Linked DNA regions of Homo sapiens: region 2 is linked to region 1. Evidence: fine-mapped expression QTL. Tissue or cell type: regulatory T cells. Region 1 holds a variant in brackets; the other region holds the start of a gene. All regions are shown on one strand. Distances are from middle to middle. Region 1 overlaps ZNF627 (zinc finger protein 627). Region 2 holds the start of ACP5 (acid phosphatase 5, tartrate resistant).

The links. PIP is the estimated chance that this variant, and not a neighbour inherited with it, causes the effect.
Region 2: ACP5 starts here. The variant in region 1 is the best candidate, but not a certain one, in a credible set for the expression of ACP5 in regulatory T cells (Bossini-Castillo 2019, PIP 0.86).

Annotation. Positions count from the first base shown.
Region 1 is chr19:11,607,656-11,612,046 of GRCh38, reverse strand. All of the region lies in intron 1 of ZNF627 (zinc finger protein 627), which reads right to left. Among named protein-coding and RNA genes, the nearest start is that of ZNF627, 12 kb to the right of the region's middle. The variant T/G (reference allele first, on the strand shown) is at 2,253.
Region 2 is chr19:11,574,839-11,579,229 of GRCh38, reverse strand. It overlaps ACP5 (acid phosphatase 5, tartrate resistant), which reads left to right and starts at 1,585. Exons shown (of 5, transcript NM_001611.5): 1 at 1,585-1,637; 2 at 1,913-2,173; 3 at 2,387-2,514; 4 at 2,642-2,987; 5 at 3,978-4,391. The coding sequence starts at 1,913. The coding sequence ends at 4,220. It overlaps LOC124904638 (a long non-coding RNA gene), which reads right to left and starts at 3,981. Exons shown (of 2, transcript XR_007067140.1): 1 at 3,877-3,981. RefSeq lists a silencer at 126-315 and enhancers at 1,266-1,405, 875-1,486, 1,487-2,099.

The DNA.
Region 1 (4,391 bases):
CTAAACAACTCTTAGAAGAAAATAGTAAAAATTATGCAGGCCATTTTTTTGGACTAAAATCCTATACTAGTCCCCAACAAATGAGACCAAACCAAAATGGAGTCACTCATGCTAAGTGCCACATAATCAAACTAAAATTTTTAAAGAAGCAGGTAGATCCTCAAACATACCCAGTTTTTCCCCAAAACAGGAGACTCACAGCAACCAATAGGAAAGGGCCCAGTCAATCTCAGCTGGCATAATAAGGACGTCCCCTCTGCTTTACCCTTTCAATAAAAGTAACCTGATGTTAACCAGTCTGCTTTGTTGTTGTTCTGTTTCTCTTGTTCCTTACAAAACCCACCCTTCTGTCACGCCCAGCGGGAGCTCTTATTCTATTTTATAGAATGGGATGGTACCCCAATTCATGAATTGCAAATAAAAGCCAACTGGATCTTTTAACTCTGTTCTAATTTTCCTTTTTAAACAAAAACACACAGCAAAAGTTTCTATTGGGTCTGGCATTGATTTCTTGGATAAAACACCAGAACATGGTTCACAAAAGAAAAAAAAGACAAATTTTATTTCATCAAAATTAAAAACTTGTGTAGGCCAGGCAGCTGGGGGAAGAGGATTCCTTGAGCCCAGGAGGTTGAGACTGGGGTGAGCTCGGATCACATCATCACTGCACTCCAGCCTAGGCAACAGAGCAAGACCTTGTCTCTAAATAAATAATTCTGTGTCAGAAGACACTATCAACACTGGGAAAAGGCAACCAGGGAATTGTAAAAAGTATCAGCAAATCATATATCTGGCAAGGTGTTAGTATCAAGAACATATAAAAAACTCCTATGACTCACAATAAAAATCAACCACTCCAAAGAACAAGTGTTGGCAAGAAGGTCAAGAATTTGGGGTCGGGCACAGTAGCTCACACCTGTAATCCCAGCACTTTGGGAGGCCATGGCGGACAGATCACTTGAGGTCAGGAGTTGAAGACCAGCCTGGCCAACATGGTAAAACCCCGTCTCTACTAAAAATACAAAAATTAGTCAGGTGTGGTGGCACATGCTTGAAGTCCCAGCTACTCCAGAGGCTGAGGCAGGAGAATCGCTTGAACCCAGGAGGTGGAGGTTGCAGTGAGCTGAAATCACGCCACTGCACTCCAGCCTGGCCAACAGAGCAAGACTCAGTCTCAAAAAAGAAAGAAAATATTTCAACAAAGAGTTCAGTGATCTAATTGGCTATTATTAGCGAGTCACGAATCAAGAAGCATCCCATCTATGAAACAGAAAGGCGCTCCATAAGTTTGTTGATCTAAAAGGAAGAAACTTAGGCAAAATCAATACAAATGGACAGTCTATTGGGGCCAGAGCTGAGGACTGCAAACCAGGAGTACAGATTCAAGTTGCCCTGAATATATACTCTAATTAGCAGCAGTTACACAAGGTTTTGTTGTTGTTTTTAGACAGGGTCTTACTCGGTCACCCAGGCTGGAGTGCAGTGGCGTAATCACGACTTATTGCAACCTCGACCTCCCTAGGCTCAGATGATCCTCCCACCTCAGCCTCCATAGTAACTGGGACTGCAGGTGCACACTACCACATCTGACTGTTTTATTTTTATTTTTTGAGGAAAAAAAAGGGCAGCAACTGCTTGAAATGTCATAAAGTAAACAAAAACCCTGAAGCTACCTGAGCCAACAGATTATGGCTGAGACATATGATAGACCATCTAAAGCCTGGGAAGAAAAGCTGAGGAGAAAAATTTCTTTCAGAAATTAGGATACTCAGAAAAACCCAGGTATGCTGGGGAATTGAGAATGCCCCCTTCATGTCCAGGAAAGAACGCATTTCCAGAAAAGACCTTTTCTGGGCTCAGAAGAATTCAAAAGACTTGAATTCAAAAGAATTGCTTGAACCCGGGAGGCGGAGGTTGCAGTGAGCTGAGATTGTGCCACTGCACTCCAGCCTGGGCAACAAAGCAAGACTCCGTCTCAAAAAAAAAAAAAAAAAAAAAATTCAAATCCCACTTTTCAACAAAAACAAAATCATAAAGAAGACAGAAAAATATGGCTCATCAATGGGAAAAAATTGAGATAAACCATCTTTGAGAATCTCCAGTTATTGCGCTCACTGGACGAAGACTTTAAGCAACCGCCTTAACTATGCTCAAAGTAGTAAAGACAACCATGGAGAAAGAAATAAAGAAAACTAAGAAAAGGATGCATGCAATAATATCAACAAAAAATTACAGGCGCGGTGGCTCACGCC[T/G]GCAGTCTCAGCACTTTGGGAGGCCAAGGTGGGCGGATCACAAGGTCAGGAGTTAGAGGCCAGCCTGGTCAACATGGTGAAACCCCGTCTCTACTAAAAATACACAAACATTAGCCGGGCATGGTGGCAGGCGCCTGTAATCCCAGCTACCTGGGAGGCTGAGGCAGGAGAATTGCTTGAAATCAGGAGGCGGAGGTTGCAGTGAGCTGAGATCATGCCATTGCACTCCAGCTCTGGGCGACAGGGCAAGACTCAGTCTCGGGGGGGAAAAAATACATATATATATATATATATATATATATATATATATATATATATATATAAAATTTTTTAAAAGACTACCCAGGAAGTACGGATCTGGAAGATGCAAAGCACAACTAAAATGAAAATTTCTCTATAGGTGTTCAATGGCAAATTCAAGCAAGCAAAATAAGAATCAGCTAACTTGAAGATAAAATTAACCACCTTGAAGAAAGAAAAAATAAATTTGAGAGAATGGGAACAATTGCTGGAGTTTGGTTGCACAACAAGGTGAGTATAGTTAACACTACTAAACTGTACACAAAAATGCTTAAGATGGTAGATTTTTAATTGTTTTTATAGCCACAATTAATAATAATAAATTGTTGGACATGGTGGCTCACGCCTATAATCCCAGCATTTTGGGAGGCTGAGGTGGGCACACAGCTTGAGCTCAAGAGTTCAAGATCAGCCTGGACAACATGGCAAAACCCTGTCTCTACAAAAAATACAAATATTAGCTGAGCATGGTGGCATGCCCTCTAGTCTCAGCTACACAGGAGGCTGAGGCAGGAGGATGGCTTGAACTCAGAAGGCGGAGATTGCAGTGAGCCGAGATGGCACCACTGCACTCCAGCCTGGGTAATGCAGCAAGACCCTGTCTCAAAAAATAATAATAATAATAAGTTATTGTAATAAACCAGCAAAAAACACATTGATTAGAAAATGGGCAAAATTGGCTGGGCATGCTGGAACACACCTGTAATCCCAGCTTCAGGAACCTAAGGCAGAAGGATCTTGAGCCCAGGCGTTCAAATCCAGCCTGGGCATCATAGCTCTTTCCAAAAAAAAGTGAAAATAAAAATAAATAAATAATAAATGGGCAAAGAACTTGAATGGACATTTCTCCAGGATATATACAAATGGCCAATAAGCACATACAAATATGCTCAACACCACGAATCATTAGGGACACAGATTTTACACAATGTAATTTCAAATGGCTACTCACCACTTGAATAGCTTTTGTCTCATGTAAAATATACACTGACAAAAAGATAAATCTTTAAAATTGTTATTTATTATTCTATGGAAAATTATAAATAACTAAAATATTACAGCTGCTTCAAACCTAGCATGGGGGAGACATAATTGAAGATAATGTCAACTGGAGAGGGGAAGTTGACATCTGGGATTGTGGCAAGGGAAACCAGAAACTTAGGAACTTATTTTGACCCTGATACGGTTTGGCTGTGCCCCCACCCAAATCTCATCTTAAATTGTAGTTCCCATAATCCCCACATGTTGTGGGAGGGACCCGGTGAGAGGTAATTTAATCATGGGGGCATTTCCCTCCATGCTGTTCTCATGATAGTGAGTTCTCACGAGATCTGATGGTTTCATAAGTGGCTTTTGCCACTCTTCGCTCTGCACTTCTCCTTGCTGCCACCATGTGAAGGACATGTTTGCTTTTTCCTTCCGTCATGATTAAGTTTCCTGAGGCCTTCCCAGCCATGCTAAACTGTATGTCAATTAAACCTCTTTCCTTTATAAATTATCCAGTCTCAGGTATGTATTTATTCACAGCGCAAGAATGGACTAATATAGTAAATTGGTACTGGGTAGCGGGGTGCTCTGCCGTAAAGATACCTGAAAATGTGGAAGCAACTTTGGAACTGGGGAACAGGCAAGGGTTGGAACAGTTTGGAGGACTCGGAAGAAGACAGGAGAATGTGGGAAAGTTTGGAACGTCCTAGAGACTTGGAGGGCTCAAAAGACAGGAAGATGTGGGAAAGTCTGGAACTTCCTAGAGACTCCTTGGATAGCTCTGACCAAAATGCTGGTAGTGATATGGACAATAAAGTCCAGGCTGAGGTGGTCTCAGATGGAGACGAGAAA
Region 2 (4,391 bases), 33 kb after region 1:
ATGGGTGCCCCCAAAGGGTCCCAGGCAGATGGAGGCTCCTGGTTGGCGTGGAGGAAGGAAAAGGATGAAATCGGCTCCCCTGGCCACCCCTTCTAGCCCAGCTGCAGCTGCAGTCCGTGGGTCTGAGCCGACCCTTGGGGTTCATCGGCCCATTTTACAGATGCGGAGCCTACAGCCGGGAGGCGTGGCGGCTCTGGGCGGTGCAGGGTTCCGGGGCGGGGAGGCCGAGGCGCCCGCCCTCCCCGCCGGGGCTCACCTGGGTCAGCCCTGAGCCCTCGAGCAGGGCGGATCGGCCGCTGCCTGCTTAAAGCTGGGGCCGCCAGGAGTGCGATCGCCTGCGGATCTGCAGCTGGGCACCGGCCGCAACGCCCGCCCCGCGACGGCAGGTGAGATGCGGGCGGCCCCGTGGGAGGGGTCTCTGCCTGTCCTCGTCACCCACTTCCTTCCCGTTTGTTGCTGCTGCAGGGCTGGGAATGGGGGGGACCAAGCACTTCGCAGGGTGACCCGGGGAGATCTGTGAGCCAGTGGCCTCAGCGTTGAATGAGAGCTCTCTCCCGGGTCCGCGCTCGCAGGGACTGAAGGGACTCCTGAATGTCCGCGGGACGTGTCGCGGCGGCGCCCAGCACGGAGGAGGCAGGCAGGGAGGTGAGGAGCAGGTCAGACCGGCCGCAGGTGCAGGGCCTCCTGCCCTCCCAGGCTGCGGTCCCGTGGAGGGCCTGCAGACAGCTGCTGAGACTATGAGGGTCAGAGGTCTGTGGTCACGCGCGCTATCACCAGCTAGCTGCCTCCTGCCTGGTTCCTCCTGCAGGAATGGGAGTCTGGGGGGAGGGGAGGGTGTGGGCAGGACTTCCTGGAAAAGGGAAGCCCGTTGGTGTTTATGTGTGGGATGGAGAGAGGGCAGGGGGAGGACGGGGACACACGCGGAGTCCCCCACCCAGATGTTGTCAAACACAGCTCCCACACCAGACACGCAACCCATCCTAGAGATGCAACCCAGGCACACACACATGGACACACACAAAACTCCATCCATAGGGATTCCCACCCAGTGCCACGTGAGAACACAGGCGTGCATCGCAGACAAGCCACACAGGCCTCGCAGGCTCAGCATACATGTCTGCAGCAACACCATCAGGTACAGAGCCGAGGCCCAGGTAGGCATGCTCAGCTGCACGCAGGAAGCAAGACACACCCAGACACACACAGGTAAGCCCTTACTCAGAGAAAGAAGGTGCAGGAGATGTGTCTTGGGTAATCACAGCCACAGCCTCTCAAGTGTGCACACACACACACACTCACACTGAGATACACAGACACACAGAGATACCTGGACGTGTCAAGCCTACAGCACAAACAGGCCCCTGCAGGTCCACCCGGAGGCTGTGTGGGCCGAGGCTGCTGCACACGTGTGCCCAGATCCTCCCACCCCCACCCCAATCCCGTGTCCTGCTCCAGGGAAGTCCAGGGCTCACATGACCCAAGGGGAGGGCTCCCGGGACAGCCCTCGGAGAAACTGCATCATCCTCACTAATGATCCACTTCCTCCTCAGGGAATAAAGGCTCAGGGACCGGCAGTTCTACTCTAGAGCCCACCAGCCTCTCAGAGCCTCCGGTGACTGGCCTGTGTCTCCCCCTGGGTGAGTGCTGGGCAGGCTAGGTGGAAGGAGGGTGAAATGGGCCTGCAGGGCCATCTTGGTACAGCTCGCCCTCTCACAGACCGCGCCCCCCTTCCCTAAGCCAGCTTGTGCAGCCTTGTGCAGCTTGTGTGTCCTGAGAATTAGGGCACCAAGGGGTTCCCGCAGGGGCAGCCTGCAGCAAGCAGTCTCCCTCTATCTCAGGGCAGGCGGGGGTCTCAAGGCCTCCCTGCCCTTGTCACAGCCCGGGCCACCTATGCTTGTCTCTCTTCTCCCAGATGGACATGTGGACGGCGCTGCTCATCCTGCAAGCCTTGTTGCTACCCTCCCTGGCTGATGGTGCCACCCCTGCCCTGCGCTTTGTAGCCGTGGGTGACTGGGGAGGGGTCCCCAATGCCCCATTCCACACGGCCCGGGAAATGGCCAATGCCAAGGAGATCGCTCGGACTGTGCAGATCCTGGGTGCAGACTTCATCCTGTCTCTAGGGGACAATTTTTACTTCACTGGTGTGCAAGACATCAATGACAAGAGGTTCCAGGTCTGTGCCCAACAGAGTGGGGCAGGAGGTGGGGGCGGGCAGTGGGGAGAAGCCGCCTTACCTAGTGACCTTCCTTTGGTGAGGGCAGAGGGAAGGTGATGGGGCACCTTTGGGCGCCGGGAGCATTCAGTGTCTCCCTTATCCTGACTTGGTGGGAGGATCGGCATAGCCACTGACCCCAGGGAAGAGGCCTGCCCTATCTGTTTGCTACAGGAGACCTTTGAGGACGTATTCTCTGACCGCTCCCTTCGCAAAGTGCCCTGGTACGTGCTAGCCGGAAACCATGACCACCTTGGCAATGTCTCTGCCCAGATTGCATACTCTAAGATCTCCAAGCGCTGGTGAGCCACCCTCAGCCCTGCCTTCCGAGATCCTCACATAGCAGGGACACAGGGGCCCTGTGGCTTGAGCTGACCCTGGGACTTCTGCGCCCAAGATGTGCACCCACGACCTCTATCCCCTCCACAGGAACTTCCCCAGCCCTTTCTACCGCCTGCACTTCAAGATCCCACAGACCAATGTGTCTGTGGCCATTTTTATGCTGGACACAGTGACACTATGTGGCAACTCAGATGACTTCCTCAGCCAGCAGCCTGAGAGGCCCCGAGACGTGAAGCTGGCCCGCACACAGCTGTCCTGGCTCAAGAAACAGCTGGCGGCGGCCAGGGAGGACTACGTGCTGGTGGCTGGCCACTACCCCGTGTGGTCCATAGCCGAGCACGGGCCTACCCACTGCCTGGTCAAGCAGCTACGGCCACTGCTGGCCACATACGGGGTCACTGCCTACCTGTGCGGCCACGATCACAATCTGCAGGTGAGGGCCCTGTGGGTGGGGTGGGAGCTGGGTGAGGGGGGTCCCCATCCCAGCTGATGTCCACATGGCTGGGGTCCTCCTGCTGTTTGAGGGTCTCCTGTGGCCTTCAGAATGTCTAGACTGTCCCTCAAATCTTGCTGTCTAACCAGGAAAACACTCCAAAGCCAGAATAATATCTTCGAATTGCCAATTTCTTTCTTTCTTTCTTTTTTAAGCTCTTTTTTTTTTTTTTTTTTGGAGACAAGGTTTCATTGTTTTTCACCCAGGCTGGAGTGCAGTGGTGCAATCGGGGCTTACTGCAGCTTCAATCTCCCGGGCTCAGGTGAACCTCCCACTTCAGCCTCCAGAGTAGCTGACACTACAGGCATGGGCCACCACATGCAGCTAATTTTTGCTTTTTTTTTTTTTTTTGAGAGGGAGTGCAGTGGCACGATCTCAACTCACTGCAACCTCCGCCTCCTGGGTTCAAGCAATTCTCCTGTCTCAGCCTCCCAAGTAGCTGGGATTACAAGCATGGGCCACCAAACCTTGCTAATTTTTATATTTTAGTAGAGACGGGGTTTCACCATGTTGGCCAGGCTGATCTCGAACTTCTGACCTCAAGTGATCTGCCCGCCTCGGCCTCCCAAAGTGCTGGGATTATAGGCATGAGCCACTGCACCTGGCCCTTGCGCATTTTTTTTGTAGAGGCAAGGTCTCACTATGTTGCCCAGGCTGGTCTCAAATTCCTGGGCTCAAGCAATCCACCCCCTCAGCCTCCCAAAGTGCTGGGATTACAGGCATGAGCCACCACACCTGGCCACCAATTTCTTACTAAGTGCTCTACCTATGAAATAGGATTAATACACTCCTAAAAGTCAGGAAATTGAAGCCAGGAGGGGTTACATACCTCAAGGTGACTCTGTGGTTAGGGCCAGATCGAGCCCTGGACCTTAGGCAGGGCTCTGCTCAAAGCTGGGTCTCCACTGACCCCTTGTCCTCCATCCTCAGTACCTGCAAGATGAGAATGGCGTGGGCTACGTGCTGAGTGGGGCTGGGAATTTCATGGACCCCTCAAAGCGGCACCAGCGCAAGGTCCCCAACGGCTATCTGCGCTTCCACTATGGGACTGAAGACTCACTGGGTGGCTTTGCCTATGTGGAGATCAGCTCCAAAGAGATGACTGTCACTTACATCGAGGCCTCGGGCAAGTCCCTCTTTAAGACCAGGCTGCCGAGGCGAGCCAGGCCCTGAACTCCCATGACTGCCCAGCTCTGAGGCCCGATCTCCACTGTTGGGTGGGTGGGCCCTGCCGGGACCCTGCTCACAGGCAGGCTTTTCCTCCAACCTGTGGCGCTGCAGCAGGGCAGGAAGGGGAAACACAGCTGATGAACTGTGGTGCCACATGACCCTTGTGGCACAGAT